Homo sapiens: one gene and its partners. The protein of the gene in region 7 interacts with the protein of the main gene of each other region in a pairwise test. Each region holds a gene or a part of one and is shown on either strand. Other genes may lie near its edges. The genes, in order: SAMD3, RNF138, ZBTB32, KLHL3, GSE1, TMCC2 and CFAP206.

Region 1 (3,975 bases), about 43 Mb from region 7:
CTGAAATGAATTTGAAATGATAAATAATGGGCATGGCAAATTTCTAAACCTACAGAACTAAAACTTTGGATGCAGACTCAACTAAATGAGGATTCAAAGGGTGTATGCATATGCAGGCTATTTGGGTTACCCAGCTAAGGTTCTAAGATCTTACATTTCTTTAGGTGACTACATTGTTATGTCTTGTTCAACAAGCAGCAAAGAACAAAACTGTTAGATTTTAGGAAGCAAGCCCTGACAAATACTTAACCATAGTATCCTAAATTTAGGTAAAGGAGAGTGCTTTAGAAACTAAGAGTAGACAGAGGTAAACAGTGAAAAACGATATATGGCTGGGCACGGTGGCTCATGATTATAATCCCAGCATTTTGGGAGGCCAGGGCAGGAGGATCACTTGAGCCCAGGAGTTTGAGACCAGCCTGGGCAACACAGAAAAACCCTGTCTCTACAAAACACAAAAATTAGCTGGGCATGGCAACATACGTGTATAGTCTCAGCTACTCAGGAGGCTGAGGTGGGAAGATTGCCTTAGCCCGGGGAGATCGAGACTGCAGTGAACCGAGACTGTGCCACTGCACTCCAGCCTGGGCAACGTAGTGAGACCCTGTCTCAAAAGAAAAGAAAGAAAAAGAAACAATGTATGTGCAGATTTGACTACAAGTTCAAAGCAAAACCAGTTTACTTTATGGAAGTCCCTTTCCTCAAACTACCCCATCCTACCACTGCCTGAACTCTTCCCCCTCAGAGGATTCCACCACCACTCCCCCTCCTGTTTTTGACAGTGGCATTATCAGATTATTAGCCACCCACACTCCAGTGAATTAATTTAGTCATTGCTTTTCCTAAAACTATAAAGAACAATCACATACTACCCACTGGGCCTCATTGTTCCTTGAATGTTTTGGTAGATCATAAATTGCCTAGAGATTAGGTCTGAAAGTTAAGTTGTCAGAAAGCTGGAATGCATAAGGCATAGTGGCTTTGTTACCAGGCAACCCACAGTGGACCACTAATCTAGATTAATACCGTTAGAAAACCGTTTTCTCAGCAGGAAGATGTGAAGGGAAGGATGAAGGAGGTGAATACGCCACTGTTCTGGGCTCATAGCCTAAGAATTTCTTTTCTGACTTTTTATGTTTTGAAATAATTTCAAGTTTGCATTAAAGTTGCAGAAATAGTAAACAGAACTTACAAGTGCCCTCTGTGCAGCTTCCCCCAATTTCTGATCCAGTTGAAAATGAGCTGTAGATACAATGCCCCACTATTCCTTAATACCTCATTGTGTATTTCCTAAGTACAAGAGCACCCAAATTCAGGAAAATCTACTACACATTCCATTCAAATTTGCCAGTTGTTCCAGTCATATTCTTAACAGGCCCAGGATCTAATCCAGGATCCCATATGAGATTTAGATACCACGCCTCTCTAGTCTCCAGTCTGAAACAACTTGTTAGTTTCCTTGACGGTTTCTGAAAAGTGGAGGCCAGTTACTTTGTAGAACATTTCTCCTTGGAAGTTTTATGATATTTCAAGATTTATGCATTTCTGGCAAGAATATTAGCATTTCTCACTGTGTCCGGAAGCACAAAATGGTAACTGGTCCCAGTATTGGAGATAATTTTTATTACTTGATTAGAAATGGAATTCACCAGGTTTTTCCACGTAAAATTAATATATGTTGTATTTTATGAGGAGATACCTTGAGTTTATGTCAATATCTTGTTCCTTGTATAACTTTGATCCATCAGATTCCACATCCATTAATGATTCTTGCCTGAATCAAGTACTACTACAATAGTTGCCAAATGGTGACTTTTCTAATTCCTTTCTTTCTACATGGATTAGTTGGCTTTCTATTTTAAGATAGTTTCTTTTCTTCCACATATATTTACTTACTTATTTCTATCACTACAGGTTAATCAATTCCCATTTTACCCAAACGGTTACAAATCTGATCCTTTCATTATTTATAGAATTGCTCGAATTGCCCAGACTTGGCCAGTAGGAGTCGCTTCAAACAGACTGCCGTGCCCTCTTGGCATGTCCTTATTAGTGTGCAAGCACTTCCTTCATTTCTGGCATTACACAGTATTTCAGACTCGTCTTGACTCGTCTTGGTTTGTTGTTGTTGTTTTCATTTTTGTTTTGCCCCCAACCCTGTAGTGAGCTATTTCTCCACGAACCCTAATTCCTTTTCATGAAGAATGGCTTTAAAAACTAAGATTTCAGGCCAGGCACTGTGGCTCATGCCTATAATCCTAGCACTTTGGGAGGCCAGGGCAGAAGGATCATTTGAGCCCAGGAGTTTGAGACCAGCCTGAGCAACATGGCGAAATCTGTCTCTACAAAAAATACAAAAATTTGCCAGGTATGGTGGCACATGCCTGTAGTCCCAGATACTCAGGAGGCTGAGGTAGAAGGATCACCTGAGCCCTGGGAGGCCAAGGCTGCAGTGAGCCATGATCATGACACTCCAGCCTGGACAACAGAGAGACTTTCTCAAAAAAAACCCAACCAAAAAAAACCAAGATTTCAGCCCTGGTGTGCAACTTGCTACGGAGATGTTATTGCTTTAGACTTTCTCATAGAAGAAATCTAGGAAATGTTTGAATTTACATAAACAAAGGCACCCGTTGATCCAGAAACACCAATAACTATATATGTAAATATTAAATAGCCATACATAAAGACTAAAACCATGAATTCACATTGATACTTTCAATTCCAAACCAATACCACAGGGCTTTTCCTAACCTTCCCCTTCCCAAGCTTCTAACTCTCTTCAACAGTGAGATTCCTGGCTCCCATTATATCTCAGTGTATTTACTTATGAGCACTAACATCTGTGTAGCCAAGCTCCCAGCTGTGAATGGTCAGCCACAGGAAAGCCTCCAACACTTATACACTGCTAGTGGGAATGTAAATTAGTTCAGCCACTGTGGAAAGCCGTTTGGAGATTTCTCAAAGAACTTAAAACAGAGCTACCATTTGACCCAACAATCCCATTACTGGGTATATACCCAAAGGAATATAAAGAAAGACGCATGCACACATATATTCATTGCAGCACTATTCACAATAGCAATAACATGGAATCCACCTAGATGCCCATCAATAGCAGACTGGATAAAGAAAATGTACATGTACACCATGGAATACTACATAGCCATAAAAAAGAATGAAATCATGTCCTTTGCAGCAACATAGGTGTAGCTGGAGGCCATTGTTCTAAGCAAATTAATGCAGGACTAGAAAACCAGATACTGCATGTTCTTTCTTATAAGTGGGAGCTAACCACTGAGTACACATGGACACAAAGAAGGGAACAATAGACCCCGGAGTCCACTTGAGATTAGAGGGTGGGTGGAAGGTGAGGATCGAAAAACTACCTATCGGGTATTATGCCCGCTACCTGGGTGATGAAATAACCTGTACACCAAACCCCCACGACATGCAATCTACTTATATAACAAACCTGCACGACGTATCCCCTGCTGAACCTAAAAGTTGGAACAAAAAGAAAGCCCCCCTTTTCACAACCCCAGATTATGTCCTACAAATTAATCATCTTAATCCTTTTTCTTTCTGTTACTCAGACTGGATAATTTCTATTAATCTATCTGCAGATTCACAGCTCCTTTCTTTTCATTTTCCAATATGCTTTTAAGCCTACGCACATGGTGATGTTTTCATTTCAGATAACTGTTCTTTTCAGCTCTGAATTTCAATTTGGTTCATGTGTGTGTGTGTGCGCGCGTGTGTGTGTGCGTGTATTTCATTTCTCTGCTGAGATTCCCTATGGTGATGATACATGGAATTTACTGGTCTTATCCTGTTCCCCACCGTCCTGTCCTGAAGCAGCTGGCTTGCCAGACTGGTGGAGTGGCCTGTTGAAGACTCAGTTACAGCACCAGCTAGGTGGCAATACCTTGTGGGGCTGGGACAAGGTTCTCCCAGGCTGTATAAGCTCTGAAT
Region 2 (4,407 bases), on a different chromosome or scaffold from region 7:
AGAGTAAACTCAATTTTTACCTTACCATTTCTACAAGCTAAAGTTCACCAGTATTATTAAAAACCTAAGAACTTGCTCTAAATCCATCCAGTAAGATACAACAGCTTGCCACAAAATTTAAGTCGATTACAAAAAAGTTATTTTAACTTTAATATTTAAACAGTACTTTCTTAATCTTGAAGAATTCACTTACCACAAATTCTCCATAATCAAATTGATGTCTCTGATTTAGATGACTAACGAAATTTCTGGTAATCTGGCTAGGATCTCCCCAAGGAAGAGACACACAAATAGGACATGTCTATAAGAAACAGATTGTTTTAAACAAAAAATAATAAAAACAATGAAATATTATACAATTGACAGTATTAAAATAACACAGGGATATGTTACCAAAAATATCTACGTGAGAAGCATTTTTAAAGGCCAAGTTCCATGACTAGATCATTTCCCAATCAATTACCTTAGATAAATGACATTAATCTAACACAGTGAGAAATCTTAGACATTCTATTCCTTAAATCTCTTATTACACAAATGTTTCAACAGAAAAACCACATCTAGCTTTTAATAATACCAACTGTAATGACAGTTATCACTAACTGGCTGCCTGCAACATATCCAATATATTATCTCATTTGATCCATACAATAACCATATAATTATTATTAGTTTTATTTCATTTGTAAGTAAAATAAAAATGAAGTAAACTGGAAAATTTACTTTAAATTGTATCCTTAGTTTTTCTTTTCTTTTCTTAAAACTAGAGACACAGTCTCACTGTTGTCCAGGCTGGGTCTCAAATTCCTGAGCTCAAGCAATCCTCCCGCCTTGGCCTCCCAAAGTGCTGGGATTAAAGGCATGTGCCACCACACCCAGCCATATCCTTACGTTTAAATGAAGTACATCTTAAAAACTGAATGGATAAATAACTGAAATAACACACAAAAAACCTTCAGTAATTAAACTCTAGCCAAAGTTTATGATATATCGAATATTATGCAGAAATGAATAAAAATTTGGTAATCCAATATAAAACTAAGTAAAATCTTAAATATGAGCGAGATTTCCTGGAACATCTTTGGCACTGTATTTGTCTATTTAAGCATAACTGAACCCATTCTAATAAGCAAAGTAGGTAGTACACCTTCTTAGGTGGTATGTGAGAGCTTAAGGTCATCCTCAATGGTTATTGAAGCATATTCTTTTTATTTTCTTTATTTTTAAATAGACAGGGTCTCACTATGTTGCCCAGGCTAGTCTCGAACTCCTGGGCTCAAGCAATCCTCCCCTCTCGGCCTCCCAAAGTGCTAAATTACAGGCATGAGCCACCGTGCCCGGTCCTGAAGCACATTCTTTCACAACTTTTCCTAGCATACTCACTAAAACAGCTTAGAAATATCTACAGTTCTTATTGATAACATTTTCCTTCCTATTCTCCTTTCTGAAGACAATTATTTATATATCAAAATGTTCAGCTGAAAGGGAAATCTCTCTCCCAGCTCAGTTTCTCCTGTTCCATTCACAGCTGAAATAACTTACCTATGAAACACTTCTAGGATCATTATATGTTGGAATCCTGAATTCTGCTCTATCTCCCTCATTATCAAAAAGCTCTCACCATTTTCTTACATACCCTCAAAATGTCAAAAAATATGTAGGCATCAAATACAAAGTCTAAGTCTTTTCCTTCCTTGCTTTATGCATTCACATACTATATGCTGCAAGAAAACAATAAAAATACCTACTGACTTTATTCTTACTTACAGGTATTTTCACCTACAGCAATCTACCTGACTAGATCTACTTGTCTGCCATCTACAGAGCAAGTAACTGAGGCCTCAATAGACAGGTTGTGCTACTGCGCAGGAATGAGTTCCCGGTTCATCTTTCATTACTTCACTCTTCTCCAGACTGTGCTATATTACCTCACACTATGCATCTCCCTTTTTATAATGAGAGTTACTGCAATTTTAAATATCTCATTTTGCTTCACAGTCATCAATCCTTTGTTGACAAAAATCTACCTTACTGATAATGCCCCAACCAAATATAAATCAACTACTTTCTCTTGCATACATGAAGTGAAATAAATAGAACAGCATGTTTTATTCTAAGCAGAAGACTGTCTCAAACGTATGTACTTACCACAGGAACTATCTGAAATAGGTGATTACTGTTACAGTGATCCAGTAAACGCTGTCTGGTAAAATTTGATTCTTGACACAGGGGACACTTAAAAGTAGGATGACCAGAAGAACTATAAAACAATTTTAAGTGAAACATACTTAATTCAGAATAACACAAAAATAACGCTCTCCTATTTTTTGAGGAATCACTATACATTTTTTAAAAAAGTTATAATTATTAGACTATTCAAAGATTCTCTCATTTTGAACATATGTATTCAGGAAATGATGCATTACAGAGGTTCCCAATCTCAGTTTACAGTACTCTTAGTGTCCTCAATAAATTTTTTCATGGCACCTCTAGGCCAAAACAAAAACAAAAACAAAAACCTAGCTGACTCCATATATTATGTAGTTAGGTCCAAACTTAATTGTAGTTGTTTTCTGATGCCAATAGCTGTCACTGTATGTCCCTTGAAAATTTTTAATATTCTGTAGTATTCCACATTTTGCAAACCTTTTATCTAGGAACTTAAAACTTCTAAAAGACTTCCATCAATATCGTATCTCTAATAAATACCAGGCCCTAGGAATCCAACATCCAAAATTCAAAGGAAAAGAAAAAACAAAAGCACTGATCATGAGAATGAAATACTCGAAAACATTCTGAGGATCAAGCATCACTGAGTTTTAATACTTCTGAATTTCAGGAAGGGACAGTTCAACACAGACAACTTTACCTGAATCGTGTGTGGAAGAAACCTGACCACAGTGAAAGAGAATAACTAAACTCTTCTAACCTAATGTGATTCTTAAAAGCAGTAACTGCATTTTCTATTTCTAAACTGCTAACTTCAAACACTATGCCTAATGATGTAACTGATTTTTTTTTTTTTTTTAAGTTTAATTTATGGCCAGGCGCAGTGGCTCATGCCTGTAATCCCAGCACTTTGGGAGGCCAAGGCAGGTGGATTATCTGAGGTCAGGAGTTCGAGACCAGCCTGGCCAACATGGTGAAACCCTGTTTCTACTAAAAATACAAAAATTAGCCGGGCGTGGTGGCAGGCACCTGTAATACCAGATACTTGGGAGGCTGAGGCAGGAGAATCACTTGAACCTGAGAGGCGCAGGTTGCAGTGAGCCAAGATCGCACCACTGCACTCCAGCCTGGGAAAACAAAGTGAGACTCCGTCTCAAAAAAAAAAAAAAAAAGTTTAATTTAAAAAGCTATTTGATAAGTGATAAATATAATATTACTTGCTAAAGTGGCAGGATTTTTCAAAAGCTTACCTTGTATTCTCTTGGTAAGTTTCTGTGTTATCAGATGTGGATGTTTCACTCCTATTGCTTAAGAAGCACAGGGGAAAAAGTTAATACCTCAAAGTAATGAAAACACACTAAAGGTTCATTATCTTGAACCATTAATGAAGAAGACTAGTCTGAATTTGTTTTAAAAGTCTGAACTTCAATACACCTTTTTCCTATTGGGTCCTTGAAAAAACAAAATTTGAACTTCAAATGGTTCTGAACTATGAAATAATTACAATATTAATTACTTTTAAATAAATTGACTGCTTACTAGATTCTTATTTATGTTCTTTAAAATTAACTTATGCACAGTTACAGAAGTATAGAGAATTTTGCAGAATTACCTTAAATCCCATTCCTCTACCTTTACCTAGACTAGTAAGGTTTTAAATGCTACGGTAGACTCAAGAATTTGTGAACTTTTTTACTTCAAACTAGGACATGGTATAAGGTTATGCCCTCCAAAGTGCAGTAATTTAAGAAAATATGTAAATGTTCATTATGTTTGTATTTTATTTCCAGAAAGGAAAGAAACCAGGCTTCACTAACATTTAATATACAGAACAACTTAACATCTCCACTTTTACCATATGCCAGAGAGTCATGTGTCACATGGAATATCAGAGGAATCCTGAGGGAAGAGTAAGTATTCCATACAGGGACCGTCACCTGTGTGCTACAGAATTTGATCAATGTGGTCAATTTTATTTATTTAGTTAGTTAGTTAGTTTTTGAGCTGGAGTCTCAATCTGTCGCCCAGGCTGGAGTGCAGTGGTGCAATCTTGGCTCACTGCAACCTCTGCCTCCTGGGTTCGAGCAATTTTTCTGCCTCAGCCTCCCAAGTAGCTGGGATTACAGGCGTGAGCCACCATGACCGGCTAATTTTTGTATTTTTAGTAGAGACGGGGTTTCGCCATGTTAGCCAGGCTGGTCTTGAACTCCTGAGCTCAAGTGATCCGCCCACCTCAGC
Region 3 (4,993 bases), on a different chromosome or scaffold from region 7:
CAGCCTGGTAACAGAGCTAAGACTCCATCTCGAAAAAAAAAAAAAAAAAGAAAATGGTAGACACTTATACCACTTGGCATATGAATGCATGACAAGAGATTGACAGATTACTCTGAGCCTCATGGCTGGAGAGGTTAACTATCGTCTAGCTTATTCTTTACCCTCCCCTCCTCATAATATACATGCATACCATTAATTGTTCTTTTTTTTTTTTTTTTTTTTTAGAGACACAGTCTTGCTCTGTCACCCAGCCTGGAGTGCAGTGGCACAATCATGGCTCACTGCAGTCTTGACATCCTGGGCTCAAGTCATCCCCCTATCTCAGCCTCCTGAGTAGCTGGGATTACAGGCATGTGCCATCATGCTTGGTGGCTGTCTGCCGAGCTGGGATTAACTGCACACTTCATGTGCCAGCACCCCGGGCCCCCACCACACCATAGAGGGAATGGCCAATTGAGCTGCCCCAATATTAACTGGTTTCGGGGTTAGACTTCCTTGAAGTCCACTCATAAGCCACTCCTTGCACCCTCACCCCTGGTTAAAGAACTCTGGGTGTACTGAAGGCACTCCGAAAGCATAAATACCACTGAACAGCTGAATGAAACTAGGTATCAACACCCTGCCCCATGAGTATAAAAAAGATCATCAGTAAAGACAACCTGGGTGATTTCCTTTATGTTATTTACTTATTTATTTTTGAGACAGAGTTTTGCCCTTGTTGCCCAGGCTGGAGTGCAGTGGCGCGATCTCGGCTCACTGCAACCTCTGCCTCCTGGGTTCAAGTGATTCTCCTACCTCAGGCTCCTAAGTAGCTGGGATTACAGGCATCTACCATGCCCGGCTAATTTTTTGCATTTTTAGTAGAGATGGGGTTTCACCACGTTGGCCAGGCTGGTCTTGAACTCCTGACCTCAGGTGATCCACCTGCCTCGGCCTCCCAAAGTGCTAGGATTACAGGTGTGAGCCACCACGCCCTGCCAAAAACCTGGGTGATTTCCTAAAGAGGAGAATATCTCACACACCTCTTCCTGTGCTCCACTACGATGTTCATCCTCCCCATGCACCTGCCCCGCACCTACAGCCTGATATCTTCATCTTCTAGGAATTATCAGAACAGGCATGGGAAAGAGTGGGACAGGGAGAATGAAAAGCTCCAGACATGACCCAATTCCAGTTTTTTTTTTTTTTTTGAGATGGAGTTTCGCTCTTGTTGCCCAGGCTGGAGTGCAATGGCACGATCTCGGCTCACCGCAACCTCCGCCTCCCAGGTACAAGCGATTCTCCTGCCTCAGCCTCCCTAGTAGCTGGGATTACAGGCATGTGCCACCACGCCCAGCTAATTTTGTATTTTTAGTAGAGATGGGGTTTCTCCATGTTGGTCATGCTGGTCTCAAACTTCTGACCTCAGGTAATCCGCCCGCCTTGGCCTCTCAAAGTGCTGGGATTATAGATGTGAGCCCCCACGCCTGGCCCTGCTTTTTTTTTTTTTTAATTAATTTTTTTTTTTTGAGACAGAGCATTGCTCTGTTGCCCAGGCTGGAGTGCAGTGGTGCGATCTCTGCTCACTGCAACCTCCGCCTCGTGGGTTCAAGGGATTCTCCTGCCTCAGACTCCTGAGTAGCTGGGATTACAGGCACCTGCCACCACACCTGGCTAATTTTTGTATTTTTAGTAGAGACAGGGTTTCACCATGTTGGTCAGGCTGGTCTCGAGCTCCTGACCTGGTGATCCACCCACCTCAGCCTCCCAAAGTGCTGGGATTACAGGTGTGAGCCACCACGCCTGGCCACCCAATCCCAGTTCTGTACAGAGCCACCACAAGGCAATAATACTTCATCCAGCGCAAACAGCTCGGCTGGGATTCAGAATCCTTCTCCCTAGAATCTCCAGAGGATTACTGGCCTAACCTCTTGGCCACATCATCCAACCTGGACTCCATACTGGGAAATCTGCCAAGAACATCTCAACCTGGAGTCCAGAACATTCACTCCCAGCCCAGGCTGGCTCCAAAGACCCCAGGAAACCTTCATGTGCACACTAGTTTCATCTCTTGGCCAGTGACTTCCTACATAACTTTTTTTTTCTTTTCATTTTTTTTCTTGAGACAGGGTCTCATTCTGTCGCCCAGGCTGGAGTGCAATGGCGTGATCTCAGCTCACTGCAACGTTCATCTCCTGAGTTCAATGAGTTCAAGCGATTCTCCTGCCTCAGCTTTCTGAGTAGCTGGGATTACGGACGTGTGCCACCACGCCCAGGTAATTTTTTTTAGAAACCCCGTAGAGACAGGGTTTCTCCATGTTGGCCAGGCTGGTCTCAAACTCCTGACCTCAAATGATCCACCTGCCTCAGCCTCCCAAAGTGCTGGGATTACAGGCGTGAGCCACCGCGCCCAGCCCCTGCATAACCTTTGGAGATCCACAGGCCTCTCCTTTCAGTCACCGGATCCAGGCTCAGTCCAGAGACCCTTGATAAGCTCTCATTGTCCGGAGGCCATACCTCATGCAGAGTTAAGGACCTCCAACTTCCCCACAACACCCTTCCTACTCAGGCTGGCCTCGGGGGCCGTGGACCAACTCAGAGAGCAAGCTGGCTTAGCCTCTGCCAAACCTAGGCCTAAAGGTGGCCAGGAGGCTGCATTTCCAGCCTCTCAAAGGCAGAGGAAAGCCCCAAGGGCTAAAGCCCTCAACCCGCACTTCCCAATCATCAACGAGGTCCAGTCAAGCCCCCATACCCCAGATTTGCCTGGGCCGGGCCCAAGCCCAAGAAAGTAAAGTAAGAAAAACTATGGCACTCACCGGCCCAGACCCTGTTCCTCCTTCCCTTTCAGCCTCACATACACCCAGGACGGCTTAAGGCCGAGTGACCGTTAAAAGTGGGGAATGGAGCGAGGCCAGGGACGCAACGCTCCCGCACGTGGTCACCCCTGGATCCTGAGGCGGACGCTGATTGGCTGCAGCGCGGGCCGCATTCTCCCGCTCAGGCCAGCTGAGCACGCTGGGCAGCCTGGGAGGCACCTAGGACAGCGCCACTCCCGCGCGTCTGCCTCGGACCCGCAGCTGATTGGCTGTGAAGGGGCAGAGCCTTGAGTCTCATTGGTCCATAGGCTTCAGGCCTCTTAGGCTGAGATTTCATTGATTTCCAGCCGGGCCCCAGCGTTGATCTGCTGTGGAGTCTGCCTTTTCCCACTCTCTCCACGAAGAGACTGGACCCTGATTCTCCTTCACCTGAACAGCCCTGGAGGCTCCCTCAGCAAGTGCTCAGGAGTACTACTGTCCTTTTTTTTTTTTTTTTTTTTGAGACAGAGTCTCGCTCTGTCGCCCAGGCTGGAGTGCAGTGGCGCGATCTCTGCTCACTGCAAGCTCCGACTCCCGGGCTCACACCATTCTCCTGCCTTAGCCTCCCAAGTAGCTGGGACTACAGGCGCCCGCCATCACGCCCGGCTAATTTTTTGTACATTTAGTAGAGATGGGGTTTCACCATGTTAGCCAGGATGGTCTCGATCTCCTGACCTCGTGATCCACTCGCCTCGGCCTCCCAAAGTGCTGGGATTACAGGCGTGAGCCACCACGCCCGGCTTTTTAAAAAATTATTATTTCATTTTTATTTTATGAACGGGGTCTCCCTCTGTTGCCGGTGCTGGGGTGCAATGGTGCAATCATAGCTCACTGCAGCCTCGAACTCCTGGGCTCAAGCAATCCTTCCACCTGGGCCTCCCAAAATTCTGGAACTACAGCCGTGAGACACCGTGCCTGACCTGCCTTTCTTGCTTCTATTTTGCCACCCTAAGTAGCTCCCATTTGCAAACCCTGTCACCTTTCTCTCAACCCTTTACCATCTGTGAGGTGTGTAGGGGGTGTGTAGGCTGCCGCCACACCTGATTGGCTGGGAGGCCCGTAAGAGCAAGCCAAGGCCAGGCACGGTGGCTCATGCCCGTAATCCCAGGGCTTTGAGAGGTCCAGGTGGTAGTAGGATCGCTTGAGCCCAGGAGGTCGAGGCTGCAGTGAGCTATGATCACACCACTGCACTGCAGCCTGGGCGACACAGTGAGGCCCTGTCTCTAATAAATAAATAAAAATAAAATAAAAGAGCCAGCCAGGCAGGGCACGGTGGCTCACGCCTGAAAACCCAGCACTTTGGGAGGCCGAGGAGGGCGGATCACCTGGGGTCAGGAGTTCGAGATCAGCATGACCAACATGGTGAAACCCCGTCTCTACTAAAAATACAAAAATTAGCTGAGCGTGGTGGCGGGCGCCTGTAATTCCAGCTACTCGGCAGGCTGAGGCAGGGGAATCGCTTGAACCCCGGGAGGCGGAGATTGCAGGGAGCCTATATCGCGCCACTGCACTCCAGCCTGGGAGACAGAGCGAGACGGCGTCTCAAAAAAAAAAAGAGCCAGCCAGGCTTCGGTGCCTGTGAACAGCTCCCTTTTCTCTCTTGTCCCACTCCACCACGATTGCTGGCACAGCTCACTCTGCCTCGCCTGGAAGCCTGGAAGTGTACAGGGACAGGAAAGACACAAGAGGGGGGCAGTGCCTTGCCCCGTGATTGGCAGCGTGACACTTGCACTTCCAATTCCCACTGCCACCTCGACTGTATGCTCAGCCAGGAGTAACTGCGCGCGGACGTGTCAGCACTCCCACCTCCAACCATACCGCAGAGGGAACGGCCGATTGCGCTGCCCCAACATTAACTGGCCCGGGGGTTAGACTCCCTCCAGCAGGGTTTCCCCCTGGGCAGGGCTTCGGGGCTAACAAGCTGCGAGCTCGCCCCTCGCCAGTCTCCCGAGGTGCTTGTCTGCGGGGCTTCTGGCCCGGCCCCCGCGGCGGTTGCACCGCTGATTGGCTGGCTCCGCTCCTTTCTAAGTGGCTTAGCCTGGGATTCGTTCTCAAGCATAGCCAATGAGACGCCAGGGCGCCTCAAGCAGGCGGGCATGACTCCACCGCTGTCGCTTCTGATTGGCCCTAAGGCTCGTCTTCGCTTTAGATTGACCAGA
Region 4 (4,407 bases), on a different chromosome or scaffold from region 7:
TTCATCTGTATCCCAGTGTCCAGGGTTCCAGCAACATTCAAGTTGAGCAGCCATATTTAAGATTCAAATGGGTCAACAATTGTAGATGTAGTGAGAAAGTATGGGCCAGGCAGAATCTCTGCTCTTTGCTATAGAAATATACAGAAATGATCATCTAAGCCATTTTCTAAATAAACTCTAGCAGAATCAGAACACATGAATCTAGTCAACTTTGTCAAAGCACCAGATATCTGGCTCAATACTTTAATTAATTTCCACACTGGCCTGTTACTAGTAAACTTGCTTATATGAACCACTACTGGTGCCATGATGAACCCACTGCAGTGGATGGTTCAACAGCCCACAGAAAGGGTGTTGCAAATTGGTTCTGACTTATCTCACACTCACAGATACCCACTGACCCCATTCAGGAAGACATACATGTGAGACAGTCAAGCTTCATAGCCATAAGGATAGACATAGTTGGCCCTTCTTTTCTGGGCTTTCAGCTTCTCTTTTCCCCTGACTTAGACTATTACAGTGGCCTCCCACCTGCTGTTCCCCACTCTAGATACTCTCCCTCCAAGTATTTCCTGCACACCATCGCCAAACTGATCCTTCTAAAATGTCATCTGACCATGACTTTCAGATCCTCACTGCACACAGGTCTCTTCGGGGCTGTGAGGTTTATGAGCTGAAGCTTCAGTCACAGCCCTCTGCCTCCATTTGTTCTATATGTTGAGGGTCCACATAAAATTTCCTTTCAAAGGACTCTATAGCTAAAAAGCTGAAAAATCATCAGTCTACAGGATAAAGTCATGATTCTTGACTAGTATTCAAGGACCTCCTTGACCTGGACTGAACCTAAATGCCAGCCTTACCTCTCTCACTTACTCAAATATTTACTAAGTACCTATTATGTGCCAAGCAGATGAACCGTTCACTGCAGACACCTATATTTCCCTTCTCTTTCCCTGTATCATAATCTAAATACCTGTTCTTTGAGGACCAATTAAACTTTACCTCCTCCATGAAACCCTCGGGATACATCAGTTCTAAGTGAGCTCTTCCTTCTCTGAATTCCTGTAGTATTTCTGGCCTGTAACTCAACTGGCACATAGAATTCTGCCTTGTGCCTGATTACTTTTTCAGGGTACAAATCCAACCACCTACCTGCCTCACACTAGATTCAACATACCCAGAGGGCAAGGAACATGTGTCTGAGGACTCTGTATAGCTTAGCCTGCCCAGCATGAGGTCATGCCCACAGTAGGTCCTCATGACATATTTGTCATCTGAACTCTACCTGAAGACCCTTCACTTGTCTTTACAAGCGTTAGATGGTAGAGTAGAAGGGGATAGTCTGACCAACACTTTTATTTTTTAATGAAAGCAGAGTTGGCCTTCAGAGTTAAATTATAAATAAAATATACATAAAATAGTAATTATAAAAGTTATAAATAAAAATATATAAGCTCTAAAAATTAGGCCCTCTTTTAGCACAGCACCTTCCAAAGCCTTCTTTCTTGCCCTCCTCTATCCTCTAAATTACAGATCCACATATCCAATGTCTTATTTGACTCCCCTAATTAGATTTTACACAGGTAATTCATACTTATTCAAAATTTATGTTCCCCACCCTCCCTTAAGCCTGCTACTCTTTCTGTATTCTCTATCTCAGAGGCATAACCAACCACCCAATCACCTATCCAAGCCAAAAACTGGGGTGTTATCCTTGATATCTTCCTCCCTCTCTCTCTCTCTCACTCCTCACATACAGCCATAAATCGAATCAATCCTATGTCCATTAATATCCCTGCACCCCATTTCCTTCTCACTTTCGCTACCATTACAACCCCATTCCAGGTCATCATTGTCTCTTGCCAGGATTATTATAATAACCTCCTCCCAGACTCCAGAGGGACTTTTCCAAAATGTCAATGTGTTCCAGGCATGTTCTACATGAAGCCTCACTGATTCCTCACTGCATTCAGAATAAATCTCAGGGACCTAGCCTGGCCCTTAATCCCATCGTTGCCCTGAAGACTTCTTATTACCGTAATACTAAAATACTTGCAATAGCCAAAATACACTAGGCTCTCTGCCTTGTGAAGTTTTGTCTCACTAGAAAACTGTTCTATCTTATTCCCCACTCATTCTCCCGTGTCTAGCTAGTTCCTACCAGCCTTCAAGCCTCTTCCCTGAAGCCTTCCCTCTCATTCTCCACTACTCACTAGATTAGTTAAAATCTAGTGGGAAACTAGGTTAGTTTCCCCAGTTCTGTATTCCCACAGTACTGTGCTTCCTTCTGTATTGTATTCTAATTACCTCTTACTTATCTGTCTGCCCCACACAGTGTGTGCTGGTAAATGTTTAACAGTTGATTGGGAGGAAAGGAGCCCTGATTTGTAACATTTGCCAATTTCCAGACTGTAAATACTCCCACCATGGCAGATTTTAAGCTACCAACATGATGCCACCGAACATGAGATTTGGGAAGAGATGTGCAACAGCACACCATCATATCACTGTATAGTATTTCTACACCAAGACACAATAGACATAACCTCAAAGCCCTAGAAGATTACAGTAAAAAATAATTAGAAAGTGATGAGTTTGGGGTATTTATTACATTCATTTTTAATATAATTTATAAGTTACATAATTTGTTAATAATGGCTATATTTAATAACTGGCTCCGAAAATTCCTGAAAATTTAACAAACAGCTTTTCCAAGTGGGTGAGTGCTGACTCCAGCACACTGCTGCCCCCTCTAGATTGTGAGCTCTCCATGAGAACCAAGACAGTTATCTTAGTTGCCTCTGAATTCTTAGCTTCTGTCACATGACAGGTGCTCAATGAATGATTACTGAGTAAATTAATAGGTAGATAAGTAAATTAGGTTTAACTACTGACCACTGTAGCTTTCCTCACTCCCCTTCATTAAAATACTGATGGCTTTGTCCCCCTCAACTTTCTCTCCATGACCCCTCCACCTCACGTTCAGAGAGGAGTACTTTCTTAGGCAGCCCAGTCCCCTGCATTGATGACACAGAATCAGGAGGATGGGAGTGAGAGAAAGCCAGCAACAACTAGAGAAGAGGGAAGAAAGTGAGATAGGTTACTGCTTACTGTGTCAGTTCTTAGACTCTTTCTATTGCTGAGGAAAATGGAGGCAGTGAATGGAAAGGAAAGGATACTAAAAAACATGCTAGAAAGGCAGGGGATAGAAGAGTCTCCAAGCAGGCTGATTGTGCAGCAATGTTTGGGGGAATCCAACAAATGAGGAGCTCCAAGTGATGAGAACTCACGGACACAAAGAAGGGAACAACAGACACTAGGGCCTACTTGAGGATGGAGGGTGGGTGGAGGAAGAGGAGCAGAAAAAATAACTATTGGCTACCTGGGTGATGACAGGTACTAATCTGTACAACAAACCTCTGTGACACAAGTTTACCTATATAACAAACCAGCACGTGTACCCCTGAACCTAAAATAAAAGTTAAAAAAAAAAAAAAGAAAAGAAAAAACAAATGAGGAGTTCCAGAACATCTTGGGTGTGCGAGAATGTAGAGGGAAGGAAAGTGGAGTCTGAGAAATGCTGTTAAAGGTTATGATCTGTTTCACCTCTAAAGGTCTCCAAGAGATGCAAATAAAATTCAGAAGTCATGAGCTGATACTGGCCACATACAAGAGGCCCAAGCACATTATGTTCAAGCTAGAGATGAGATGGAATAAAGAGGCAAAACCACTCAATGAAGGCAAAACAACTGTGAGCCAGGGCAAAGCTGTGCTGAATGCATTAAAAACTCTCAACAAAGAAAGTGTCATTTAGAAAGGAATAACCAAAAACTAAGAATCAGACAGAGAAGAAAGCCCTCGGTCCAACCCATCACACTCTGTCTAGGAAAGTGATTTAATCATCAGATATCGTCAGCTGGTTCAGCCTCAGGTCAGATCCTCATGGTGGAGTTTGAAGTCTGTAAATACTCCAATGCCATAACTCAGTCCCTAGTTTACTCTGCAGCCTTTTGACCAGTTTGGCCTCCCCCGTGGTTGTCCTTCAGAGAGGTAGAATGTGGTTGCAGGCCCTCAGGAATATCTTGCCAGTAATATTTTACTGCAAATCAATAAACTGATGACATGTTGACTATTGTATTTTAGGTTCTCATGAGGTCATTGGCATGACTCTGCTTCTCCAACTCTGGACAGCAATGGGACCCTATATAGATAGGATTTCTGAGCCCCTGGCACTCTGGTCAAACTGCAGATCTAGTAAGTATCCCAATCCTAAAGTTCAAGACCAAAATGATCAAACTTAGATTTCTACTTCTGGATTAATGAAGAACCTGACTCTTGAAGATGTCCAGCCAGCAGGATTCAGGACTTGGTGGTGCAGTCCTGCTATCACAAAGTACCATTTACACA
Region 5 (3,500 bases), on a different chromosome or scaffold from region 7:
CACCACGTGGTGCACGGGCCGCTGGAGGCTGCAGGCGGGGATAGTGGGCAAGGTGGGGACAGGTGAGTGCACACCTGCTCCTGCATGGGGGGACGGCTAAACTCCCTGCATCACCCCTGGCGCTCAGTCGGCACCCAGACTCCTGGCACCCCGAACGAGGACGGGGCTTAAGCAGCGGGGGGAGCGAGCTGCCACTGCCACCTCAGTGTGAAGGGGCACAGACAGGGCTGCAATCCCCAGGGCTCAGCGGCCGACAACCATCTAGCAGGCACAGCCTCATCTGTGCAGACCGCAGGCTGCCTGGGGACCCAGACCCTGAGCACTGTGTCCCCACCTGGCCACCTCACCGAAGTCCCCGCCGACCAACTTACTTGAGTGGCGGGAAGCGGGAATCCTGCACAACTGAGCTGGGGGAGAGGCCGAAGGGGTAGGGGGTGCTGAGCAGGTGCGAGGGGATGGCTGGTCCCCCTGCCTTCTCCTGAGGGAGCGGGGGCTCCACAATGAGGCGTTCCCGACCTCCACTGCTGCTCCTGGAGCCGGCATCCTGCGGGAGGAGAGCGTCCAGTCAGGGCAGGAGCCTGGTATAGGCCACTGACCACAGGACACAGCCAGGTCTCCTGACTCACGGGAAGGCGCTAGATTTAGTTCATGTTCTAGAAACATCCTTTCCCTAAGGCTTTCTACGCAAAACATGGTGCATGTGGTGTGGGAAGCAGAACCGTAAGAAAGGGGATGTGGCTGCGACAGGTCTGGGGTGAAGTGCGTCTCGGGATCCGTCTCCCTCCCTGGGCCTCCTCAGTCCAGCAAAAGAACTAGAACCCCCCAGAAACACAATGTGTGCAGGTGAAGGATGCAGGGTGGCAGGGGCTCCTGCCTCCACCCCTCCTGGTGTGGACATCCGAAGGTCACACCAGACACACACCCGGGGAAGCAGACACCGTTGGCACCCAGCACGCCGTGAAGCGAGTGCCACGATGTAGCCAAGACGTCAACTGCGCCGACAGCTGCCCACCTGGCCGCAGATGTCCTGGCCCTGGTGCCCACGTGGAGGGCAGGGGCAAAGGAAGCTGGCACTGCCCCTGGGCCGAAGGTGCTGGTCTGCCCCCAACCACCTCCTGGGGTGGCCCTGGCCCTGGAGCCCACCAGAACAGGCAGCAGCTGGGCCCTGACTGGCCAGCTGGGGTACCGGCCTTCACACACACGGTGGGGCAGGGAAGGCAACAGCTCGCCTGTCCCAGGCTCCTGGACACAGTGGACCTGGGTGTAGCTGGGAAGGTGGTCCAGAGGACTCAGATGAGGGGTCTTCTCCAGGCACAAAGCAGGAGGAGGCAGTGGCCCAAAGCCCACCTTCCGGGCTGAGGTCCCTGCCAAGTTCAAGGATAGGCCGTGCCACCCCTAGCCACGCAGAGGCTGCCCCGCACACACGCAGGGTCCAGCCCGGAGAAACCAGAGCATGAAAAGGCCTTGCTTGTTCCTGTTATTCGTGTGACTAAGTGGGAGGAGGAGGAGGAGGGGGTAGGAGGAGGAGGAGGGGGTAGGAGGAGGAGGAGGAGGAGGAGGGGGTAGGAGGAGGAGGAGGAGGAGGGGGGAGGAGGAGGAGGAGGGGGAGGGGGGAGGAGGGGGGAGGAGGGGGGCGGAGGGAGCCTCAGGGCGGCCCAGATGGGGGCTGTGCTCTGGACTCTGGATGGCTGCCAACCCAGGCGTCACTCTGTCACTGGGGCAGCCGTTCTCAGCCCCAGCATCTTCCCCATGTGGGGACAGCACTGCCCAGGCCTACCCTGACCTGGGGGTGTCTGAGAGCCATGGCCACGCTGGCCCCTCTGAGCTTCCCAGGGATGCAGAGCCACGGGAACCCGGCCCTTCCTCACGTTCCATCTGGCCATGTCAGGTAACGACTGCTGATCAGCGGGCAGTGCTCCTGAAGAGCACCAGCCCCGCTCTGCCTCCCTGAGCCACGAAATGCCAAACACCCAAAAAACAAGGAGGCCATGGCCGTCTCCCCACAAGATCAGCAGGAATGATGGCCCAGGGGCTCTGAGACCTGCCCCACCGTGGAGAAGCATCTGTCTCCCAGGGGCCGTGCCTGTGTCCCTGACCCGCCAGCCCCTCTTCCTGGGCCCATCCATCTTCATAGCGGCAGACGGTGACCCGGCAGCAGCACATGGCACCCGCGCAGAGGCAGTGCAGGCAGCCCGGGCCGGCGCCTCCCCTCTCTCCACCCTCCAGGAGACAGTCAGCGAGGATTAACTGGAGGAGCCGCCGCCGCCGCCGCCGCCTGGAATCTTCAATGAGAGGCAGCATCTGCTCCCTTCCCGCGGGCTGAGCCCCGGCCCCCCTTCTCTGTAGGGTCCTCCTGGGTTCACGACTTCTGACCTGCCTCTCCAGGGTGCTGGTCTCGAGGGTGGGAGGTACACATGGGCACTGACGCCCTGCGTGGGGCCGGGAACTTCCTATTGAGGAGCCAGCGCCTGGCCTTGGGGTCTCCAGCCGGTGTCAGCAACCGGGGTAGTGGGGGAGTGGCCGAGGGGCCAACCTGACCTTGGGAGACCTGGCCATCCTGTCGTGCCTCGTGCACACATCAATGGCATGTGCCCGTCACGGCACCTGCTCAGAGGACAGCAGAGTTGATGGCACGGCTATGAACGGGCATGCGGGGGACTCACAGGGCAGCAGAGTTGATGGCACAGCTGTGCACGGGCATGTGGGGGACGCACCAGCAGGGTGGGGGCCCGGACATGGCAGGTGTGTTGCCAGGCTGGCCTGCCTACCCCAGCCCCGTGAGGCTATTTCCAGGCTGGGCTTCTAGATCCTGCCTCACGCCCCTACCCTGCCTGGCATAGGGCCAAACATCTGAGGAACGGAGCACGAGGAAGGACACACCCTGTTCCTAGGGTCTGGGATGGACTTAACAAGACGGAGTGGCCCCTGGCCCCCCAGCATCCAAGTAGCACCCCAATGAACACCAGGCCTAAAGCTAGTGGGTCTCTGGATGCCCAGAACAGGGGCCTCGCCTGCTCAGGCACCCGGGGTACCTGGACTCCCCCTCCCAGGCTGGTGGGGAGGCCTCCAGGGCAGGAGGGAGACGACAGCCAGGGGCTTCAATCATCACCCAGCCTTGGGTGGCCAGAGTCAGAAGAGGGCTGGAGGACAGACCTCGACCTGAGGACAGCACCCAGGGTCAAACTACCAACAGCCCAGGCCTGCCGCCCTCCTCCGCATGCTGCCCGCGCCGTGGGCCGGGTCAAACGGCAAAGCACAGGGCCCCAGCCGCCCCGCCACAAGGAGGGGCCTGTCCCCAGCCCAGACACGGCCCTTGAACCCCTTCTCCCCTCAGCCGAGGACAAAGCCCTGCTCGCAGGCCAGATGGCACCTTCCTGGCCTGGCTGAGGACAAACAGGGAGTCCGGGGGGCTGGGGGGCAGCCAGCAGGCGGGGCAGGGGCCCGGCGAGCCAGACCCACATGTCTGTGGCTTCCGTCTGGCTGGCGCCCGGCCAACCCTG
Region 6 (4,407 bases), on a different chromosome or scaffold from region 7:
GTGCTGGTGCAGGATGGCGGCCAGGCTGCTGTCCTGGGGGGCCTTGCGCAGCAGGTGAGGGCTGCCACGCTGGGGCTCCAGGGAGCTACTCTTGGTGCGCCGGCTGCTGCTCCCGCTGCTGCCGCCCCCACTGCTGCTGTGCAGGCTGGCGCCCCGCTTGATGGAGGGCCGGGAGCGGATCTGCTGCAGCACGCGGTTGAAGGCGGTGGGCCGGGCGGGCAGGTCGTGCAGGGACATGGCGTAGGAGACGCGATGCATCTCCGGAGAGCGCTCCTTCTCATCTGGGGAGTCATGGTCGGACATACCCTGCTGCTGCTGATGCTGCTGGGAATCCTGAGACGTCTGGTGCTCCCTTTCCCGAGACCGACGGCGGCTGTGGAACAGGTGCTTCAGACCGTGGCCAAACATGGAGCCCTCTGACAGCTGCTGGATTTTCTTAAGGGGGAGAGATGAAGAACCCTGGTGAGTGGAAAGCTCTTGATTGCCTAGTCAGTAGGAGGGTGAAGGTGAAGGGTCTGTCCTTGGTAGACTGGCATAGCTAATGCAGCCATCTGAACCTGGAAGATCTCTGTGGATGGCCCGTCGTGCATAAAGGGTCAGTTTGCGAAAAGGTGGCAACCCAGACCCATCCTTTCATTCCGAAAGAAGTGTGCCCCCACGGTTTTCCACGGGACATTCCTAATCAAAATGAAGGTTCAGAGTTTCTAGGAATGATGCTCTCAGGGCTTCAGTCTGGGGCTTAATGGCATACACAGGTAGCACTTGGCTCATGGGGTTGTATCCCTCTAGATTGATCCCCACCCCCAGTCCTTCCCTCCTTCCAAGTTAGACGACCCTTCAAGCTGTACTAGTTCTTTCAGGCCACCAAGCATCGATTTCCAAAGTTGCCTAATTCCAACATTCCCCCAGTAAAATCAGGGTCATACAATCAAGTTATACTGTTGTAGCAGACACTGCTAATTGCCTACCCAATATCTATTTTTCTTTCTTACCAACCAAACTGCAAGGACTTAACTCACCTTGCTAAAAATTCCTGCTTCATCAGACTCCCCTTGCAGCTAGGAGTAGCCACATGACACAGTTTGGGCCAACGAAAAGCAAGGTGAGAGCTTCTGGGAGCACTTTTGCTTTCCTGATAAAGGCACTGGCCCTTCCCAAATCTTCCCATCTGGAATGGGAACGTAGTGCCTGGAGATGCAGTGGCCATTCTGCAACCACAAGATGACATGGTTGACGATGAGGGTCTGCACACAGATGGTGGAGCCCAAGGGACAGGCCTGGGAACTTGAAGGTCTATGGAGCCACCAAACCAGTTGTGAACATCTATCCTGGGATTCTTGTTGCATGAAATAAACCCATCTTTGTCTACACAACTCTAGTATGATTTTCTGTTATTTGCAACCAATTTCATTCCTGATATGGTTGGCAATGAAATAAACTTTACTTCTATGAGCAAACCTTGTGACATAGTAATGTGACCAATTCTTTAGCATACACATCAGAACAAGCTATCCAAATGAGTGTCTTTCCCCTTAGATCCAAAGCATAGAGGCACTGCAACCCGGTGCCGCCCAGGCCACAGCCTTTCCTCTTAGCCCTGTTGCTGAGATTCTCCAGCTGCTCTTCCGGCAAGACTGCTCACAGAGGGGCAGCTGGATGGCCTGCCAGGGCGAGCAACTGTGGTATAATTCCAGACAGCTGCTTCTGTCAGGGGACGGCTTATCCGGCCAGGTTGAGCCCTCTATGAGAGCTTTGGAGCTGTTGGAAGGAGGGGTGAGACTTGGAGGACCAGGAGACACCTCACATTCTGCAGCTCCTTAGAGGAAAACTCAGGGCCCAGCCATTTGGGACTCAATGAGCCATAGCAGGATTTCCTGTGAGGAACAACCCACAATCTTACCAGGCTGCCTCAGTCATTTAAAAAATGTTCCAAAAAATTACACAGACTGGATTTTCTTTTTTTTTTTCCCTAGAAACAAACTTACAGAGCAGAAAATCTAGACCATATAGAAACCAAGAAAAAGCAACCTGACATCCTCTAAATGAGCTGACCCCACTCTTAGGTTACTTTACAACTCAGCCTTGAGTTTGTGCAGATGGCTGCGCTTACAGCTGGATACAATAACTGTACTATTATGTATTTGTGTAAAATTTTAGGATTTTCATTTTTCACCTCATTTGAGTATCCCCAGAATCCTTAAAGTAGATGAGGCCCTTACATCACCCATTTTACAGACCAGATAAATTACATCATCACAACTCATCACGAACTAACGGTTTTTCATTTCAAAGGAGATTTGTATCCTGCATTATCCCATTGATTCTCCTAAATAGTAACAAAAGCAACAACGGAAACATCTCCATTTAGAGAAGAGGAAATTAAGGCTACCATGATTCCTTCTCAAGAACTGAATTCTGGGGCAGCCCTCGAGATCTTAAGTTACACAATGCCAGCTTTTCCCACAGGAGTTACCATCCCCTGGGGGCCAGCTTGAGGCAGGGTCACAAGGCTCACCTGAATCTGTGCTGGGGAGAACCAAGATGTCAACTCTGCCATGGACTTGGAACAGGCCAGATCCTGCAGCCTTCAGACCAGGGACCTGCCAGGACACCTCCCCCTTCCCCAGGCCCAAGCTGATGTGAGACCTCCCTCCAGACACTGTGATGGGGCCAGCTGGCTCTGGCATTTGCCCAGCTGCCTCTGCCAAATCGTCACATTCCATAATACGAATTGTCTTTCTAGCGTTCTATTCCAGGTCCCTTCCTCTTCTCCCCCCATTCCTAAACTGGCTTCTCCAACACTGAGGATCCACTCAGGCAGAAAGAGTTTCCCTTCTAAAGACTTCAGCAGAGGTCCTAGAGTTCTGAGGCATTTCCTCTCCCCTATCCCCGGGAGGCTGGTGGAGGTGCTGGGGAGAGCTACGGTGGCCACCGATGTCTGCCATATTGCCTTGGAGCCTAAAATCCTTGGTCAATTTACTTTTAAAATTTATACAACAGCATTTTGCAAAGTGCGTTCCGATTTATACTGTCATTATAATCTGACACTAGCCTAATCTCAGGAGCTAGGAATGTGAGATGTCACAGCATCAGTGTCTATTTTGCAGATGAAGAAACGGAGGCACAGCATAGCTAAGTGGCTCATCCAAGCCACACAGAGAAACCCCCGACTTCTAATTGAATTTACCTTCATGGGCCCATACACTGATTTCAAGACTTAAGATTTAAAGTAGATAGGGTATTTGCATGTGTCCCAGAATAGTATCAGAGGCAGGCGCCAAACAAAAATGCCTGGGTCAAGGGTTGTTAGGTCCCCTGAACTGCTGTTGTGACCTGCCCATCCCATGTTATGGGACAAGACCCTCAACTATAAAGTCTTTACTTCCCACCTCCCTGAGCTGTCCTGCAGCTGAAGGAAACCTAGGGAAAGTGACCAGGAGACCCCAGGACCTTTGTCCCAGCAGACCGAGGAATCTATTAAAGTCTGAGGCAGGCAGGAGGGAAATAACAAAAAGGAAGTCAAAGAACAAGGTGCAGAGAGAGGAGATTACTCCAAATGAAGGGGTTTTTCCTCACTGATAAGGTGCGAGGCGGGAACAGCAAAGTGACGCAAGGGCTGGGCCGCTTCTGCATGTGGGTGTCAGGGAGGAGATGGTTAAGGAGTTTTGACATAACACAGTAAGTGTTTTAAAAAAAAAAAACTCAGCACATACACATAACCAGCTACAAGTTTCAGAAGTGAGGAAAACCATGGTGACTAGCTTAAGGGAACTTAGCCGCCAACGCAGCAGAAAGCACCACCTGCTCTGACTAACAGGTTCCAGCTCCTAAAATGTCACTTGCTTTTCCACATTGACTTTTGCTTTTCCCTGGCTGCCAGAAACCATTTTGGTGGCCAAATGAAGCCATGCATTAGAGAGCTGAGATGCTTCAGAGTTAGAGGTGGCAAACAAACAGGGCTTTCATGATCTGTAAGACCGAAGCAAGAAGTGCCGTCCCCAGAACTGGCCATAAGGTAGTCAGAAAGGAGAGCCTCCCAGGGTGAGGTGCCCCGGGGAAGGAAGTGAGGGGAGTTGGCTGTCCCTCCCCTGGAACTATCTGAAAGGGCAGGAAGAGCCCCATCTCCTTGGGTGGCACTGTCCTTTCAGGAAAAAAGGGAGGACTAGATGGCTTCTGAAAGATCCTTCCTGAGAAGGCTGTGGTTTCTGAACAGTTGGGCTTCATCCGTCTTTCTCCCTGGGTGTGGGTCCCCCAAAGGGGAAGTTTGCTCCAAAATCTGCAAACACAGCTGCATGAATACAAAACTAAAATGCCTTGGGGTACAGTGTCATTGGCACCATCTGGTTAAAAATGACCAAAAGTGGTTTCTAATTTTTACAGGTACGTGTGTTCTCAACAAATCCCAGG
Region 7 (4,407 bases):
GTCTCTACTAAGAATACAAAAATTAGCTGGGCATGGTGGCACACACCTATAGTCCCAGCTACTCGGGTGGCTGAGGTGGGAGAATTGCTTCAACATGGGAGTCAGAGGTTGCAGTGATCTGTGGATCGTGCCACTGCACTCCTGCCTGGGTGACAGAGCAAGACTCTGTCTCAAAAAAAATTTACATATTGAAACGTTTTCTAAACTTAAACTCCCCATCGTTCATTTTTGAATAGTTACATAATTTAGGTAATTATAATGAGATAATAACATAAACCAGGAACAAGAAAATCTATAAATTAAAAACTTTTAACTTCAATGGGCTGAATTCCTAATTATTATGTATTAGTGCCACTGGAAACAATAATTATGAGCACAATAATTGGAATTCACTTTTAACACTCACAAAGGCCAATGGTTTTTTTTCATTTAGCATTTCTAACGTTGTATTCCTCAAAGTTGATTGCCAAAAATTAAATTGTTAAATTGATTAAACAATTAAATTCATTGTCAACCAAATGAAGCCCTTCTTAGCTGAAACACAGTATGAAATTTTTTAAGTATAAAAATAGGTAGTATACATTACCTCGATTCGTATAATTCATATCGAAGTAGACTTGCATCTTAATAGTGTCCAGGGATGGATTTTTAGTATCCAATAGCCGAGTCATACAAAGCTAGAAAAGAATGTCCCATGAATACTTCTAGTTATAGTTTTTGAGACAGTCAAGTATTTCCTAAAGTTATTTTCAAAAATAAAGGGAAAAGCAGTGGTTCCTGATATTGATTCACCAATAACCCCTTTTATTTTTTTTTTCTCCTTGAGGACTTCAGGCTTTATAGTTTATTTAACCAATAACTTTTTTTATTTTTATAGATTTAGGGGGTACAAGTGTCATTTTGTTACATGGATATATTGCGTGTAGTGGTGAAGCCTGGGCTTTTAGGGTAGCTAACACCTGAATAGTGGACATTGTACCCATTAAGTGATTTCTTATCCCTCGCTCCCCTCTCACCCTCCCAAGTCTTCAATGTCTACTGTTCCACTCTCTATGTCCCTGGGTACATATTATTGAGCTCCCACTTATAAGTGAGAACATGTGGTATTTTACTTTCTGAGTTATTTCACTTAAGATAGTAGCCTCCAGTTCCATCCATGTTGCCACAAGACATGATTTCATTATTTTTTATGGCTCAATAAAACTCCATTGTGTGTATGTGTGTATACATTTTCTTTATCCAATCATCTGTTGATGGACACTTAGGTTGATTCCATATCTTTACTACCAATAACATTTGTTAAGTAATAAGTTATTTCCCTTGAGTTAACCAATAATCATCATGCCAGGTGGCTAGTAGTCTAGTTGAAGGCAAGAAACCTGATGTTTTGGTTAGTTTGAGCAGTCTAAATGTGGGTAAATGTTCCACAAAGCTTATATTCCAGTCTAAAACTCTTCTAGAGTTCCTCATTACTATTTATTTGTGCCTTGAACAACACTCCTCATTTTATTTTATAAAAAGCTGCTGCAGCTGGTGCAGTGGCTCACACCCGTAATCCCAGCATTTTGGGAGGCAGAGGTGGGCAGATCACCCGATGTCAGGAGTTCGAGACCAGCCTGGTCAACATGGTGAAACCCGTCTCTACTAAAAATACAACAATTAGCCAGGCATGGTGGCACACACCTGTAGTCCCAGCTACTCGGGAGGCTGAGACAGGAGAATCGCTTGAGAACCCGGGAGGTGGACATGGCAATGAGCCAAGATCATGCCACCGCACCCCAGCTTGGGGGACAGAGCGAGACTCTGTCTCAAAAAATAAAATATAATTAAATTAAATTAAATTAAAATTAAAAAGCTGCTGCAACCACCCCCCTCTCTTCACAAAATTTCTCTGGTTCTACCCTTGATATTTCTTCTCCTGGTCTGTTTTCTCCTATGAGCCCCCACATAGATGGCTCATTCCCCTTCTCTGCCTTGCCTCTTTATATTGAATATCAACCTCAGTTTTTCTTTCCTTCTCTCATCTCTACTGGTCACCTCCCTCCCCCACTTCCTTCACTGCTCACTCTGTAGGCTGAATATACTGCAGCTGGCAGGCACTTGGCAGCATCACTCTCAACCCATCTCCCTGAGCACCAGCCCTGCTTTCCTGGGAGGAGGGAGGGGAGAATGCAAGACTGAGGATTGGACACTATGTCTTTGCAGAAGCCTGTGCACCTGGATCCCTCCACATACAGAAGTACTGTTCTAAAATGCACACTTAAAAAAATAGCTCATCCACATGATTTTTAGTTGAGAAAAAAATTGTCACTTGAATATAACATATGTTGTTAGTTTATGTACCTGTCGTACTAAAAGTATATTGGCTTGATTCTTTCCAACTTAGTTGAGTTGGGGAATTGGGGGGAATGGAAAACTCTTCTTGGGTCATGACAAGGAGAACAACTTATTTTCTGCCCCTCCTGGATTCTCTTCCACGGCTTTCCAATAAAATTTCTGACTGCCACAATCACTTCCCCTATTGCTAAGAACAAGCTTTATACCATCTTTTCTCTGCATCCTCACCAATATCTGTTATGTTTTTACTTTTTAAAGATATTCTAACTGGTGTAAGATTGTATCTCATTGTCAGAATAGAAAATCCAGACACAAAGCCACATACCTGCAGTCAGGTGATCTTTGACAAAGTCAACAGAAACATACACTGGAGAAATGACATCCTATTCAATAAATGGTGCTGGGAAAATTGGATTACCATATGCAGAAGAATGAAACCCATCCCAATGTCTCACCATATACAAAAATTAACAACTCAAGATTGATTAAAGACTTAAATGTAAGACCTGAAACTATAAAAATAACAGAAAAAAACCTAGGGGGCTGGGCATTGGCCTACGCAAAGAATTCATGACTTAAAAGTAAATGCAACAGAAATAGACAAATTGGATTTAAATAAACTAAAAAGCTTCTACACATCAAAATGAATAATCAACAGAGTGAAAAGACAGCCTGCAGAATGGGAGAAAATATGTACAAACTATGCATCTGACAAAGGACTAATATTCAGGATCTACGAGGAACTCAAACAACTCGACAACAACAAATAACCCCATTATAAAGTGGGCAAAGGCCATGAATAGATATTTTTCAAAAGAAGACATACAAATCGCCAAAAAGCATGAAAAAAATGCTCAACATCACTCAGCATTAGAGAAATGCAAATTAATTTAGTTCTATTTAACTTCACAGTATATGACGAACTAGTTAATGTTTGCAATGTAAGACATTAGTAACAAGGTTTCACTAAAATACTGTAGCAGATGCTGCTACCTGCCCAATTTCCCTGCCCTTCCTTCCTTACTAACAGAGCCTCAATTTGGATTGGGGCAAGGATTTATTCATCTAAGAAAGAAAAAAGAAGTGAAATGTCCCTGGGTCACTTACAATATCATTCTGGTCAATAAATGTTAAGTAGATGGGAGGGATTCTGGGAAAATTATTATTTTCTGGATAGAAGGTGATAGACCCAATTGGCACACATATTTTGCCCTTTGTCTTTCCCCCTTCTTTCTGCCTAGAGGCAGGGTAGCTATCTTTTGACCACCAGATGACCATATTGCAAGGATGGTGTGCCCCAGGAAGCCAGGAAGAATGGTCTATGTCTCTCCAGATTTTGTGTTATGAGAAAAATATCTCGTGTATACTACTATTTTGTGGGCTTTTGTTTCATGCAGCTGAAGGCAATAATGACTAATACAAATATTGTATTTACAACTGAGAATAAGTAATTGCAAATTTGAGGACTGTTGGGTAATCACCTTAACAAGATTCTGCACATCACTTTTCATGAGGGTTCTATCCATGTTAAAGCCATTACTTGGATCCAGGACAACAGCTTTCACCTAGAAAAAAGTAGGAACGAGTCCATTAACTAGGAAAGAATCCATTAAGCAATTTTATTTCATATTATTAGCTTAATATGTTTCCATTTTTTAAACAACTACCTCTTGATTACGTTGGGGTTGGTTTTCCAACTATTCTTCTTATTACTGAACTCATCAGTACCCTTGTTAGAGGTTGAAAAAAGGAAGCAACAAACATCAAACTTGAATATGGTGCTAGAAAAGTTATATGGGGAAATAAGTTGAAAGCAATGGCTAGGTTTTCAATTGGGAAACTATGGCATATTTTATTGTATTTTTATTGTGTATTGTTAACCAAAAGCAAGAACAGAGAAACCACAGCAATGAGTAATTTTTAACAACGGCAAACAAAAATACACGTCAAAAAATTCCCACACAGGAGAACATTATTGATGTTTCCAAAACTCATCAAGGTCTTCTAAATGTCTCTATAAATCTAGAACTCACATGCTCTATAAACTTTTTAAAAATGTTTTCACAAATT

The links.
Region 1: the proteins of CFAP206 (region 7) and SAMD3 interact in binary tests that used the Homo sapiens proteins (3 or more experiments, as listed by UniProt).
Region 2: the proteins of CFAP206 (region 7) and RNF138 interact in a two-hybrid assay, tested with the Homo sapiens proteins (one large-scale study listed by BioGRID and IntAct).
Region 3: the proteins of CFAP206 (region 7) and ZBTB32 interact in a two-hybrid assay, tested with the Homo sapiens proteins (one large-scale study listed by BioGRID and IntAct).
Region 4: the proteins of CFAP206 (region 7) and KLHL3 interact in a two-hybrid assay, tested with the Homo sapiens proteins (one large-scale study listed by BioGRID).
Region 5: the proteins of CFAP206 (region 7) and GSE1 interact in binary tests that used the Homo sapiens proteins (3 or more experiments, as listed by UniProt).
Region 6: the proteins of CFAP206 (region 7) and TMCC2 interact in a two-hybrid assay, tested with the Homo sapiens proteins (one large-scale study listed by BioGRID).

The regions. Positions count from the first base shown.
Region 1 is NC_000006.12:130,146,363-130,150,337, forward strand, and holds part of SAMD3 (sterile alpha motif domain-containing protein 3), read right to left. Parts: intron 1-3,975.
Region 2 is NC_000018.10:32,122,587-32,126,993, reverse strand, and holds part of RNF138 (E3 ubiquitin-protein ligase RNF138), read right to left. Parts: intron 3,477-4,407; coding exon 3,420-3,476; intron 2,261-3,419; coding exon 2,149-2,260; intron 302-2,148; coding exon 194-301; intron 1-193. UniProt on the Homo sapiens protein: E3 ubiquitin-protein ligase involved in DNA damage response by promoting DNA resection and homologous recombination.
Region 3 is NC_000019.10:35,702,426-35,707,418, reverse strand, and holds the start of ZBTB32 (zinc finger and BTB domain-containing protein 32), read right to left. Parts: upstream 2,862-4,993; 5' UTR 2,796-2,861; intron 1-2,795. UniProt on the Homo sapiens protein: DNA-binding protein that binds to the to a 5'-TGTACAGTGT-3' core sequence. May function as a transcriptional transactivator and transcriptional repressor. Probably exerts its repressor effect by preventing GATA3 from binding to DNA.
Region 4 is NC_000005.10:137,725,498-137,729,904, forward strand, and holds part of KLHL3 (kelch-like protein 3), read right to left. Parts: intron 1-4,407. UniProt on the Homo sapiens protein: Substrate-specific adapter of a BCR (BTB-CUL3-RBX1) E3 ubiquitin ligase complex that acts as a regulator of ion transport in the distal nephron.
Region 5 is NC_000016.10:85,651,322-85,654,821, reverse strand, and holds part of GSE1 (genetic suppressor element 1), read right to left. Parts: intron 545-3,500; coding exon 372-544; intron 29-371; coding exon 1-28.
Region 6 is NC_000001.11:205,237,533-205,241,939, reverse strand, and holds part of TMCC2 (transmembrane and coiled-coil domains protein 2), read right to left. Parts: intron 1,209-4,407; exon of another isoform or gene 1,020-1,208; intron 436-1,019; coding exon 1-435.
Region 7 is NC_000006.12:87,410,080-87,414,486, reverse strand, and holds part of CFAP206 (cilia- and flagella-associated protein 206), read right to left. Parts: intron 3,903-4,407; coding exon 3,819-3,902; intron 678-3,818; coding exon 587-677; intron 1-586. UniProt on the Homo sapiens protein: Essential for sperm motility and is involved in the regulation of the beating frequency of motile cilia on the epithelial cells of the respiratory tract. Required for the establishment of radial spokes in sperm flagella.